Linked DNA regions of Homo sapiens. The protein of the gene in region 4 purifies or fractionates together with the protein of the main gene of each other region. This does not show direct contact. Each region holds a gene or a part of one and is shown on either strand. Other genes may lie near its edges.

Region 1 (3,500 bases), on a different chromosome or scaffold from region 4:
GTTGGCCAGGCTGGTCTCAAACTCCTGACCTCAGGTGATCTAACCACCTCAGCCTCCCAAAGTGCTGGGATTACAGGTGTGAGCCACCTGGCCCGGCCACACCCTTCTTTTTTTAAAGACAGGATTTTGCTCTGTCACCAAGACTGGAGTGCAGTGATGTGATTATAGCTCACTGTAGCTTTGAATTCCTGGGCTCAAGCGAACCTCCCGCCTCAGCCTCCTCAGTAGCTGGGATGATAGGGGCACATCACCATGCGCAGACTTACTTCTACCCCTATGCCAAACACAGCAAAGAACTGAAGTGAGGCCAAGGACAAAGGTAGCTACTTGGACCTGCCCAGGCCAGTCTTCTGACTCTAATAAACCACAGTTTACCAGACTGCAGTACACCACCAAGTTTGTAACCAAAGCCCCAGATGGAAATTAAGAGTCTCTTTCACTGGGCCTGTCTGTGCTCCTATTTTTCTCCAAAACCTCACAGAAGGCATCAGGGAGGGCAGGACTGGCAGATTCAGAAGACTGTGTCAGCTGGGCGTGGTAGCTCATGCATGTAATCCCAGCACCCTGGGAGGCTGAGGCGGACAGATCATGTGACGCCAGGAGTTCCAGACCAGCCTGGCCAACATGGTGAAACCCGTCTCTACTAAAAATACAAAAATTAGCCGGGCATGGTGGCAGGCGCCTGTAAACCCAGCTACTCAGGAGGCAGAGGTTGCAGTGAGCCAAGATCGTGCCACTGCACTCCAGCCTGGGAGACAGAATGAGACTCCACCTCAAAAATAAATAAACAGGCCTGGCACGGTGGCGCACGCCTGTAATCCCAGCCTGTAATCCCAGCACTTTGGGAGGCCGAGGCAGGCGGATCACCTGAGGTCGGGAATTCCAGACCAGCAACATGGAGAAACCCCATCTCTACTAAAAATACAAAATTAGCCAGGCGCGGTGGCGCATGCCTGTAATCCCAGCTACTCGGGAGGCTGAGGCAGGAGAATCACTTGAACCCGGGAGCCAGAGTTTGCGGTGAGCTGAGATCGCCCCAAGCCAAGTTCGCGCCACTGCATTCCAGCCTGGGCAACAAGGGCAAAACTCCATCTCAAATAAATAAATAAATAAAAATAAGGAGCCTGTGTCCTTGCCATTTTTGTCCTCTCAACACCACCATCCATAGCTAGAGTTACTATTTGTTGAGGGCTTATTATAAACTAAGCAGTTCACACAAACGATGTCTGAGGCTCATAAGACACCTACGAAGTATGTATTATTATTTCCATTTTACAAATTAAGAAACTGAAACTCAAAGAGGTTAAGTAACTTGTAACTGCCTCACAAGCAGTGTCTTAAACTCCCAAATCTCCAACTGCCTACTGACCATTTCCCTTAAGAGAATGTTGTGGAGATTAGATGCAAGTGTACATAATGTGCTTAGCACACAATTGATGCATAGTAGTTCCTCAATAAAAATGTTAATCATTAGGCGGAGCACAGTGGCTTACGCCTGTAATCCCAGCAGTTTGCGTGGCTGAGGTGGGCAGATCACTTGAGGCCAGGAGTTCAAGACCAGCATGGCCAACATGGAGAAATCCTGTCTCTACTAAAAATACAAAAAATTAGGCCAGGCACAGTAGTTCACACCTGTAATCCCAGCACTTTGAGAGGCCGAGGTAGGCGGATCACCTGAGGTCAGAAGTTCGAGACCAGCCTGGCGAACATGGTGAAACCTGGTCTCTACTAAAAATACAAAAATTAGCCGGGTGTGGTGGCACGCGCCTGCAGTCCCAGCTACTCGGGAGGCTGAGGCGGGAGAATTGCTTGCTGGGATTACAGGCGCCTGCCACCACACCCAGCTAATTTTTGTATTTTTAGTAGAGATGGGGTTTCGCCATGTTGGCCAGGCTGGTCTCGAACTCCTGACCTTAGGTGATCCTCCCACCTCAGTCTCCCAAAGTGCTGGGATTACAGGCGTAAGCCACTGTGCCCAGTCGAGAGAAATACTTTTTCTAAAGGCCTCCTCAGTAAACTTCTACTTATATCTCAGTGGCCAGAATTCTACCACAAAAAAACTCCCTCTCAAAAAAAAAAAAAAAAAAAGGAAAAAGAAAAGGCATTTTTCTCAGAATAAAAGGAAAAAAAATAGAGGAGGGGACTCAAACTCAGCTGACACTAACCTTTTTTTATGAGATGGAGTTTCGCTCTTGTTGCCCAGGCTGGAATGCAATGGCGCGATGTCGGCTCAAGGCAGCCTCCGCCTCCCGGGTTCAAGCGATTCTCCTGCCTCAGCCTCCCGAGTAGCTGGGATTACAGGCATGTGCCACCACGCCCCGCTAATTTTGTATTTTTAGTAGAGACGGGGTTTCTCCATGTTGGTCAGGCTGATCTCGAACTCCCGACCTCACATGATCCACCCGCCCCAGCCTACCAAAGTGCTGGGATTACAGGCGTGAGCCACTGGACCTGGCCGACACTAACCTTTTATACTCTGCCCTACAAGCTGCCCCTTCTTCTTTTCTGAAGATATGGGGCAGCAGTATCGTAACTATGAAGAGCCACATACCAATAATGGCAGAGCAGGAAAACAGCAAAGCCCTGAACTGTCCAGGTCTGGACTTCTTGTTACATGAGAAAAACTAAATTCCTATTGTTTAAGCCATTTGTAGTTTGGTTGCTGAATGCAATCCCTAACAAACACAGGCTCCACCCCATTCTAAAAGATAACCTGGGCTGCAAAGGGATATTTTGGATCACCTAAGCCATGCCTACATAACAAGAGTACAGCCTCAGAACCACAGTATGACCAAGGAACACAGCACCTCAACAGTGAACTTTTTTCAAGGGACCAAAACCTACAGGGAAGCAACACAAAAAGCACAAGCTTGTTTATCTAACACTCTCCAAAGGACAGGGTGTTCTAACCAAACAACCTTAGTACCCTCAGTGTAAGTTAATAAACTGCTAACTGGTTTATCAACCAGGTTCTTGTGGAGTTGATCCAATGGTATGTTGTTCTTTAAGCACCAACTTTCACTATAATTACTTAATTGTTTACTTTCTCCTCTAGACTATAGGCTCTGTGAGAGCAGGGACCATATCTACCCCATTCACTACTCAGAATGCAGCCCTAAGCATAGTGCCTAGTACAAAGTTAGCTGTGAATAAATATTTGGCAAAGAATTCACTGAATCAATAGATGACACACACAAAAAAATCCCCCAGTGACTAACTCTGGTGAAGTGATAAAATCCAAAGGGTGGGACTGGGAGCAGTGGCTCACGCCCGTAATCCCAGCATTTGGGGAGGTTGAGGTGCACGGATCACCTGAGGTCAGGAGTTCGAGACCAGCCTGGCCAACATGGTGAAACCCTGTCTCTACTAAAAATACAAAAATTAGCTGGGCATGGGGGCACGCGCCTGTAATCTCAGTTGCTTGGGTGGCTAAGGTGTGAGAATTGCTGGAACCCAGGAGGTAGACGTCACAGTGAGCTGAGATTGTGCCACTGCACTCA
Region 2 (2,838 bases), on a different chromosome or scaffold from region 4:
TATCTTAGGTAAAAGTATTCAATAGAATAGCTGAAATAAATGTGAAGCTTTTCTTAATAGGCAGTAATTAGATAAAATGAACAACATTCTCAATCCTCCTCATGCCACATAATTCTCTCCCTGCAAGTTTGTCTCAAAAAAAAAAAAAAAAAAAAAATCACATATAAGAAAAACCTTAAGAATTTGAATTTGGTTTTTCCTTATAACTGATAAAGAATTTACACAATCTCTTTAGACATTTATGTTTTGATATTTAAATATGAAATTTCAACTATACCATGACCTATGGGTGAAGTTGGAAATTATAGTAACCTTATAACTTCGTCATCATCTACATAATTTGATACTTTATAAAAGTATAATTCCACTACTTGTATTTTAGTTATAGTCTGATATTAAATAGTTAATGTAAAATTAAAAAATCAACCACGGTAGCAAATGTTTGTCCTGAGAGGGTTTTTAAAGTCCTTTTTCTTTTTTAGGGGGTGTGGGGGGGTCATGTAGTAACAAGTGGCAATGCCACATGAGGCTGAGACCACAATGTGTTTCTAAAATAATTTACAATATTCCTAACAAGCTTATTAAATAGACCTGAAGAGAAATGAAGTTCCAAAAATATTTAAAACAAGGGCAGTGGCAGCACCCTTGGAATAAAGTTTCCCACAGAGTTACGTCTGATAGTTTTGACTGTACAGTATGTGCTTCTTTTTGTTTTTAACATAACAATTGTCAGAGAAAAAAGAAAACACCTATGATACATTGGATATTAAAGTCAACATAACCTCAGAAAATGAGGTAGGAAGGCCTCACGAGTCCTTTATATATTCTCCACTTGAAATTATCATTATCAAAAATTTTAGTAGGATCATGGAATCCTTAACAATTTCACAAAAAAAGCACATACATTTTTGGTTCTCTTTGACTATATGGAGAGAGAAAGAGAGATGGATTCATTCATTCAAGACTCAGTGCAGTCTCAACCTCCCCAGGCTCAAGTGATCCTCCCACCTCAGCCTCCCAAATAGCTGGGACTACAGCCACCATGCCCAGCTAATTTTTCTATTTTTTGTAGAGACAGGGTTTTACCATGTTCCCCAGGCTGGTCTTGAACTCCTGAGTTCAAGCAGTATGCCTGCCTTGGCCTCCCAAAGTGCTGGGATCACAGGTGTGAGCCACGGCGTCCAGCCACGAGGAGAGATTTCAAACTCTCCAAACTTCTATTTTGCTCTTTGGAATCCCATTTTGACTTCAAGAGCTAAAATGAAATGGAGTGAATAATGAACGAAAAGCACCAAAAAATAGAGCTGTGTGTGCATGTGCGTATAGTGGTGGGGAGGAAAAGGGAAAAGCCAAGAAGATACCCTCACTTCCAGCAAAGCCCTGGGTTTTTAAATTTTGGTAATTTTTGGTATTTTCCCATAAACACAAAGTGCTTCAAGTGAGACAAAAACCAAAGAGGAGGTAAAAAAATAAACATTTGCTTGGAACTTGCCCACGTGGGAAGATTTGAATGTTCCTTCTCTAGCCGCTCCCCCTGCCCTTTTTTTTTTTTTTTTTTGGAGACAGAGTTGCGCTCTGTCGCCCAAGATGGAGTACAGTGGCGTGATCTTGGCTCACTGCAACTTCCGCATCCCGGGTTCAAGCGATTCTACTGCCTCAGCCTCCCAAGTAGCTGGGATTATAGGCACCCGTCACCACACCTGACTAATTTTTCGTAATTTTAGTAGAGATGAGGTTTCACCATGTTGGCCAGGCTGGTCTGGAACTCCTGACCTCAGATGATCCACCCGCCTCGGCCTCCCAAAGTGCTGGGATTACAGGTGTGAGCCACCACGCCTGACCTTAGTTCCCATTATTGAATCCAAATTCATTCTACATTCATTCTATGGTTACCAGAAAAAAAAAAAAAAAAAACCTGCAATTAACCTCTCAATCACTGAATTACTACCCACTGTTTATACCCTTTAAGTGATAATCAGTCCATCAATATTTTAAAGGACAATAATCTTCTGATAAAACTCTAGACTCTTACATTAATCAAAGAAAAGTACAGAAGAAGATAAGATTTACTCTTTCTCCCCCGACCTTTACTGGACACAGTATAGAATAGAAATCAATCTATTTCTCAGCATGCCACTGTCCTAAATAACAGCTGCCATTCTTAGAGAAGATAAACTGAACATATCACTCCTAAGCAAAGTGAATGTACACTAGGGAACCAAAGCAATAATGCAGTGTAGAAGCAACAATGGATTCTCTAAGACTTGGTTCCAATCCCAACTCTGCCTTTAAACAGCTGTGTGGATCTCAAGCAAATCCCTTTCCTTGTACAGGGTCATTCATTCAATACTAAAATAAGTGGGTTGAATTAGATGAGCTCTCTAGTCCCTTTCAGCACTAACATTAAAAGACTCTAAGTTATAAATGTCAACTGCTTTTTACCTCCTATTAAAAATGAGTGGGCTTTTTTGCAGAAATTGGTAAGCTGAATCTTAGGCTGAGTATGGTGGCTCACGACTGTAATCCCAGCACTTTGGGAGGCTGAGGCAGCCGGGTTACTTGATGTCAGGAGTTCGAGACCAGCCTGGTCAGCATGATGAAACCTCATCTCTATTAAAAATACAAAAATTAGCCTGGCATGGTGGCACGCGCCTGTAGTCCTAACTACTCTGGAGGCTGAGGCAGGAGAATCTCTCGAACCCAGGAGGCGGAGGTTGCAGTGAGCTGAGATTGAGCCATAGCACTCCAGCCTGGGTGACAAAGCAAGATGCTATCTCAAAAAAAAAAAAAAAGAAAAAAAAGAAATCGATAAGCAGAATCTAAACTCACATGAAAATG
Region 3 (4,218 bases), on a different chromosome or scaffold from region 4:
AAGTTCTTTAACTTCACAGAGAGCGGCCGGGCACGGTGGCTCACGTCTGTAATCCCAGCACTTTGGGAGGCCAAGGTGGGCAGATCAGAAGGTCAGGAGTTCAAGACCAGCCTGGCCAACATGGCGAAACCCTGTCTCTCCTAAAGATAGAAAAAATTAGCCAGGCATGGTGGCACGCGCCTGTAATCTCAGCTACTCAGGGGGCTAAGGCAGGAGAATCGCTTGAACCTGGGAGGCGGAGGTTGCGGTGAACCGAGATCGCGCCATTGCACTCCAGCCTGGGCGGCAGGGTGAGAATTCGTTTCAAAAAAAGAAAAATTCATAGAGAGCAGAGGAGCAAAGATAAAGAGCTAAAGGTGATCCAGCTATAAAAACCTGACTTCTGGAACAAAGCACTAAAGAAAGGGTGAACAGTACCAAAGTCATAACTGCTGTTTGAGAACAGATGTTCAAATGTGGGAAATGTTCAAAGTAAGTTCCAAAAAAAATAAACTAGCTTATCATTGTATATAAAGTTTATTTCAGAAATCACGTATCTTAAAAAAAAAAAACACACAGAGGGTATAAGTTCGTATCCTGACCAGATATTCATTATTTGAATGGCAGAGTGTTGTGTGGTACAATTAACGAGATGCAGATACTAAGTCCATATAATATTCCTGGCATTTACACCAGGCTCACAACACTGTGACCTTTAAAAAGCAAAAAAACCAAAAACCAACCAACCAAACAAACACAAAAAAAACAAACCCACAAAAAATGAAAAAACAGCTACTTCTGAAACACATAAAAGTATCTTGATCTTTTAAAAACAGGTCCTGAAACTACAGATCCATTGCTGAGACTACTCGAAAAACTGTAAAACATGGGCATTATTTTAATTCGTGAACAACTGAAAAGATTCAATGGAGTGCCATGTGGTCATTTTAGTATGTGAGTCAAAGCAGAATAATAGGGAAACATTAAATCTCTCCTTTACAGTTTAAGAGGTTGAAAGCAAAAGGAAAGTCTGAAAAAAGAACAGGGGAGGTTTGGTTGGTAATGTTTTTGGTAGAACTGGTTATCCTTGTTCGTATTTAGTAGGTGCCTTTTAGTCTTACGAGAGTAGCACCCACAGATGGCCAAGTTCAAATATCAAAGAATCAGAATGCAAAGTACAACTGGAAATTCACACTGGAATTCAACTGGAAATATGCATCAAAAAATATGGCTCTTTGGAAATCTGAGCTAAAACCCTGTGATGTAACATGTTAAGATGCTTAAGACAGTTTTACAGATCAAGGAGTTAAAACGATCCTCAAGGATGACTAAAACAGAATGTTTACGCAATAACTTCAGTAACTTCGTATGATGGGGCCGCGCGTGGTGGCTCACGCCTGTAATCCTAGCACTTTGGGAGGCTGAGGCGGGCGGATTACCTGAGGTTGGGAGTTCGAGACCAGCCTGACCAACATGGAGAAACCCCGTCTCTACTAAAAAAAATACAAAATTAGCCGGGCATGGTGGCGCACGCCTGTAATCCTAGTTACTCGGGAGCCTGAGGCAGGAGAATCGTTTGAACCCAGGTGGCGGAGGCTGCGGTGAGCCGAGATCGCGCCATTGCACTAAAGCCTGGGGGACAAGAGCGAAACTCCGTCTCAAAAACAAAACAAACAAAACAAAACAAAACAAAACTTCCTATAATATAAAGCAATGACTTTTACTTCAATCTATTTACTATTTTTATCAAATGATCCCAGATTATATTTCTAGGTACTCCTATGCAGATCATAAGGTATTTGTTTTTTGGGATAAATATAAAGCAAAGTTTATGTTTGTACAAGGGGAGTTCAGAGTTCTCTGACTCTGCTAGTGCTGAATCCAGAGAAGTACTGTCATGTTCTAAAAAGCTTCAGGAAGGCTGGGCGCGGTGGCTCACGCCTGTAATCCCAAAACTTTGGGAGGCTGAGGCAGGCGGATCACGAGGTCAGGAGATAGAGACCATCCTGGCTAACATGGTGAAACCCTGGCTCTACTAAAAATACAAAAAAAAAAAAAAAAAAAAAAAAAATTAGCCGGGCGTGGTGGTGGGTGCCTGTAGTCCCAGCTACTTGGGAGGCTGAGGCAGGAAAATGGTGTGAAACCAGGAGGCGGAGCTTGCAGTGAGCTGAGATCACGCCACTGCACTCCAACCTGGGTGACAGAGCAAGACTGTGCCTCAATTAAAAAAAAAAAAATTCAAGAAAAAGAAAACTTGTATCAATTGGTTAACTGCATAAATCTTCTGAGAATGCAGTTACTATGTGCCTCCATGATGAGAAGTTAGTTCATGCTGACGAGAACTGAAGACTTAAAACCACCTAAGAAAGAGGTCAATCGATACTAATCATTCGTGAAGACAGGCAACACCTGAGAGCAATAGCAGGCTGACCTAATTTAATTAGATCGGATATATTTTCAATTGTTTCTCATGAAATCATAATCTTACCAGAAATACAGTTACTAAAGACAAGTATTGCAGATATTGAAGGATAATGTAGGGAGTATGTTGAAAGATACTGTTCCTATAAATTGTCAGGAAAAACTGGCCATTAATTTTACAGAAGTGAAAAATATATAACAATAAAGTTGCAGATCTGAGCTTTATTATCAGAATAACATCATTTCAGGATAGAATTGAGGGATTCTTGAAAATGCTTTTGATAATGGCATAAAACTCAGGAGTCTCAGAGCTGCATGCCTGCTTATCTGTTCAAATATACCTGGAAGGGAAATACACAGAGGGTTCAGCAGAATAAGCAAGAAAGTTGACAGAAGAACCAAATGAAAATTCCTCATGTCAAAAGCACTTTAATGCCCTATCCTCCTTCAATCAAGAGATCAAAAGAAACGGCAAGTCCTGTACTTACAAAACCGATGAAAATCACACTGTAATAATCAGTGAATGTAGAACTGCACAGATCTGTGTTTCCAACTTTTTCCACCATGATTCTACATCAAGGTAAAAAAAGATTCTTTTATACAAATCCAAGAAGAATGTGGACAGAGGTGGCAGCAAAACGTCAAGGATGGTGCACGGACTTACGACTGCAGCTGAGACAGGACGTGGGGGAGGAGGGTAGAGTCCTCGAGAAAGAACCCTACGGAGAGGGTGGCTCAGTCAGTGGTCGATCTCCGGTACCAAAACCGCGCTCTGAAGTCATCGCTGCACGTCATGAACCCGGGGTTGGTGGGGGAGTGCACTATGCAGCGTACAATATTGTTGTGCCCCAACGACAGCAGGTTTCTCCGCTCGGCTGTCCTCGAGTCCCAGCAGCAAAGACTGATCGTCCTCTCGTCGGGCAGCAACACATAGTCCTCGGTGTGGTTAAACACAGCCTGTGTCCGGTGCACCTGGCGTCCACTTAAACCCGCGCCTGCCACAGAGAGCAAGAGGGATAGCTTTCTAAGTCCACATCTTAGACCCTCAGAACGTTCTAGCATTCAATGTAAAAGCATTTTAAACCTGTTGCAGTGATACACCTTGTACACTTTCAGAAACTCTAAAAAAGTACAAAAAAGAAAATCAAACCAGGCACAGTGGCTCACGTCTGTAATCCCAGTACTTTGGGAGGCTGAGGAAGGAGGGCTGCTTGAGCCCAGGAGTTCAAGACCAGTCTGGGCAACAGGCAACAGAGCAAGAGCAAGACTGCATCAGGAAAAAAAAAAAGGAGATCACCAGATCACCTGAAGCAATACTGTTACTGTCCTAATGTACTTTGAGGCATAAAAAAACACATTTTAAAAATACATATAAAATTGTTGCCACTATATTTTTCTATTATAGTTTTAACCAACTTTATGCTGAGTACATTTTTCCATGTTTTTTACTAGATGCAAAGTGCCTCATGTTTAGAAGCCCCATTACTTATTTAACAATTCTTTTGTGTGTGATCTTTTTTTTTTTTTTTTAGACAGAGTCTCACTCTGTCGCCAGGCTGGAGTGCAGTGGCGTGATCTCGGCTCACTGCAACCTCCGCCTCCTGGGTTCGAGTGATTCTCCCGCCTCAGCCTCCCAAGTAGCTGGGACTACAGGTGGACACCACCACACCCAGCCAATTTTTGTATTTTTAGTAAAGACAGGGTTTCACCAGGTTGGCCAGGATGGTCTTTATCTCCTGACCTTGTGATCCACCTGCTTCGGCCTCCCAAAGTGCTGGGATTACAGGTGTGAGCCACCATGCCCGGCCTGTTTAACAA
Region 4 (3,500 bases):
GAATCTGGAAGGCAAGATTCATTCTGAAACGGCCATAACTGAAGTACGGCAATTCTATTTTTGTCACATTTTAAAGCACAAAAATTTCTGCTGTCAAAAATGTATCAGATGGGGAAATGCAGTGAATGAACTTTACATGATGAAAGAGAATATCACTCCACAAGAAATACTCTGCCACAGCAAGTCTTTGATAATAAACATCATGACAACAGCAAACAAAGACTAATGAGATGACATGGGAACCGACACTAAACAAACATGGCAGGGAAGCAAGAAGTATCTTCTCAAACATCTCCATCTCCTTTCAGCATTAAAAGCAGCATGGATTTCAGGAAAAGTAAGACAAACTAGGCACACACGAAAAGACTCTTGCTTCCTCTGCTGGGTACTGAAGGAAACTATAAAAGAAAGCTCATCTCACTTAGTCTCTGCATGAAGACATCCTGGAAATACCCTCAAAACATGAGTCACTTCCCTTTGCCAATTTCTGACAAAAAGGTGAAGATAACTATAATAGGAAGATGTCTTGTGCAAGTATGCGTTAAACAGCTAAAACCTGATGGATTGAGGGCTGGCCCCATGACAGGCAGAAGTATGACTGAAACCCTAATACCTTCTCATTACTGCAGAAATACTCTGGGGAACATATATGATCTATTGACAGTGGTGCGGTGGGGATAGAGGGATGTACAATAGCACAAAAGCATTGGATGCTTAGAGAAAATATGAGATATTTGGCCAGGGAGTTTGTCCTGCTGTCAGACTTCTAACAAGAAAAAGTTAATTCTGTCACTTCAGCAACCAACCCCAGTGTAAAAACCACAGGCTTGTATATTAATGTTTATGTATGTATGTGTGTATATATATGTGTGTGTGTGTGTATATATATATATTCTTTGAGACAGGGTCTTGCTCTGTTGCCCAGGCTGGAGTGCAGTGGTGCCCGATTATGGCTCACTGCAGTCTCAACCTGTTGGGCTCAAGTGATCCTTCCACTTCGGCCTCCCAAGTAGCTGGGACCACAAGTGCACACCACCATTGCCCAACTAGTTTTTGTATTTTTTATAGAGACGGGGTTTTGCCATGTTGTCTAGGCTAGTTTCAAACCTCTGAGCTCAAGCAATCCACCCACCTCAGCCTCCCAAAGTGCTGGGATTACAGGCATGAGCCACTGCGCCTGGCCAATATTTTGCTTTTTAAATGGGTTCCACTTATAAACCATATGCTACAAAAGAAAAAACCTTAAGCTTCTCTATGCTTGTCCAAAGCAGTCTTTCCCATCATTTTATTCCCAAGGAATAAGAGTAGAAGACACTGAAGAATATGCTTGGAAGTTAACAGAGGCAGTGTGGAGTGACAGAAAGAGGACAGATTCTGGAGTCAAAGACTTCTGAATCTTAGCTCTGCCACTTACTAGTTGGAAGAGAAAATAAGAGCACCAAATCCAGTCCACATTACTCATACATTAATATTTACTTACCTTGTCCCCTTGAGAAAGTAACTTATTCTGAGCTTCCAACTCTTTGCCTGTAAAACTGAGGTGCTGCCACCTAACTCACAAGATTATTTATGAAAATTAAAGTGCCTGGCATATAGTATGCACTCAGTTCCTTCTCTTTTCTTACGATCTCTCCTCCTAACATTGTTTCCAACTGAACCACTGCACTTTCTTGTCCTTCAAACTCCAGTAACATGAAGAAACAACATGGAGATTTTGGAGCAGCAGCTACTGTTGTATATAGCAGTACAGCCACGGTACAACATATGTTCATTAAGTAGGCGTTACAGACCTATGATTCCCTCCCAGTTTTCTCTGGGGTTTAAATCTAGTCTTCTACATACCCAGCCACATATTTACATGCTCATTATTAAAATTCCTTACTCAGTCAACAGATATCCATACAGGGAGAGAGAACATGTCAGTGGAATTATTAGACTAGGAATCAGGAAACAAACGATCCACTTGCTTCATTATCAATTCTTGTAGAGCTGGACTCTGAATCACCAGGTGGAAAGTCTAGACCAGCACTGTCCAATAGATCTTTTTACGATGATAGAAATGTTCTATATCTGTAATGTCCTGTATGGTATCCACTAGTCACCTGTGGCCACTGAGCACTTGGAATGTGGCTATTGTGACTGAGGAACTGAGTTTTAAATTTTACTTAATTTTAATTAACTTAATATTGAAATAGCCATGGGTGGTTAGTGGCTGCCATATTAGATACTGTGGATGTGGAACACTTCCATGACCAATTAACATTAGTCAGACATTAATATTTATTTACCTTGCCCCCGTTCCATGGACACTGGTCCACTTCCTGGCATTCCAACCTGAGCCTGCATTCCTCCTAGAAGATAAAGGGCAGACAAGAAAAAACACCAATTAGAACAGCGGAAAAGAAAAATTAGAACAGTGGCTGAGTTTACAAATTTCCTCATTCTGCTCCACAAGCAGAAACCTACAAAGGAAGATATTCAACAATGCAATGAGAGAGAAGATGGGGTTTGTTAGTATATTTACAATTTGTACTTTATGTTTCAGTGACAGAATAGTGAGTTCAATAAGAATAATTCATTTCATTGGTTACCAAACTCTTGGCAGGAAGCTCTTCTATAATACAGGAAAACAATGTCACTTACCCATGGACCTCCTGTCATGAAAGATAATTTAAATACAAGTATAACTCTATTAGGATAAAGTAGATACATAACAATCCTAAAGTAGATACAAAAAATTCCTGAGTTTGCAGAAATTTCTTCAAAAAATCTCTTCTTCCATTCCTCATCAACTTAGCTCTGCAGACTGGATTCTCTACAGAACAGAACAATTTAGAATTAAATCATTCTCCATGAGTAGTGTTGTACTCAACCTACCCTAGATTAGATAAATTAACAAAAACCAAGTTTGTTACATAAAAAAACTTTAAATATTGGTAATACATCATGTGTTCATACAGATGTTTCATATGGGGAATCATTATTTCACTCAATCTTCTTAGTTACAATTGTTGAACAAGGAACAGTTACAAGTATATGAGCAATACTCTTATTAATTGCCGATCTATACATTTTCAATAAATGTACATAGCTTTTAAATTTCTCTTTTTCCCTTTTGTTGTTTGTTCTGATTATGTTTGTTAAAATACAATTTTATGTCAGTTTAATATGCTATAACAAATGTGACCTTGTATTTTTTTGTCTGTTTTCTTCATGAGCTTTTGAACCTAATCTGACAGTTCATTCATATTTAGCAGAGTAACAACTACATTAGTTTTTATTCCTTCCATCTTACTCTACATTTATTATTACTTATTTTACACTGTCTCTTACTTTTTTCCTCTTCTCTATTTTTGCTGGCTTGATTTTGTTTCCACTCATTCCATTTTCCCCCTTGTTAACTTGGAAGTTTTACTATGCTCTTTCACTTTACTGTCCCTTTCCCTGTTCTTATAATTAGACATACAGGATTTAACGTAAGAAATCTACTATTTCCTCCA

The links. Proteins that work in one complex are often made in the same cells at the same time.
Region 1: the proteins of CSTF2 (region 4) and TUT1 purify together in Homo sapiens (co-immunoprecipitation; 2 studies listed by IntAct, with this or other methods). This does not show direct contact.
Region 2: the proteins of CSTF2 (region 4) and CPSF2 purify together in Homo sapiens (affinity purification with western blotting; 3 studies listed by BioGRID and IntAct, with this or other methods). This does not show direct contact.
Region 3: the proteins of CSTF2 (region 4) and CSTF1 purify together in Homo sapiens (affinity purification with mass spectrometry; 2 studies listed by BioGRID, with this or other methods). This does not show direct contact.

What each region holds. Positions count from the first base shown.
Region 1 is NC_000011.10:62,585,024-62,588,523, forward strand, and holds part of TUT1 (speckle targeted PIP5K1A-regulated poly(A) polymerase), read right to left. Parts: intron 1-3,500. UniProt on the Homo sapiens protein: Poly(A) polymerase that creates the 3'-poly(A) tail of specific pre-mRNAs. Localizes to nuclear speckles together with PIP5K1A and mediates polyadenylation of a select set of mRNAs, such as HMOX1.
Region 2 is NC_000014.9:92,166,969-92,169,806, reverse strand, and holds part of CPSF2 (cleavage and polyadenylation specificity factor subunit 2), read right to left. Parts: 3' UTR 1-2,838. UniProt on the Homo sapiens protein: Component of the cleavage and polyadenylation specificity factor (CPSF) complex that play a key role in pre-mRNA 3'-end formation, recognizing the AAUAAA signal sequence and interacting with poly(A) polymerase and other factors to bring about cleavage and poly(A) addition.
Region 3 is NC_000020.11:56,402,645-56,406,862, reverse strand, and holds the end of CSTF1 (cleavage stimulation factor subunit 1), read right to left. Parts: intron 3,396-4,218; coding exon 3,136-3,395; 3' UTR 501-3,135; downstream 1-500. UniProt on the Homo sapiens protein: One of the multiple factors required for polyadenylation and 3'-end cleavage of mammalian pre-mRNAs. May be responsible for the interaction of CSTF with other factors to form a stable complex on the pre-mRNA.
Region 4 is NC_000023.11:100,826,891-100,830,390, reverse strand, and holds part of CSTF2 (cleavage stimulation factor subunit 2), read right to left. Parts: intron 2,352-3,500; coding exon 2,289-2,351; intron 1-2,288. UniProt on the Homo sapiens protein: One of the multiple factors required for polyadenylation and 3'-end cleavage of mammalian pre-mRNAs. This subunit is directly involved in the binding to pre-mRNAs.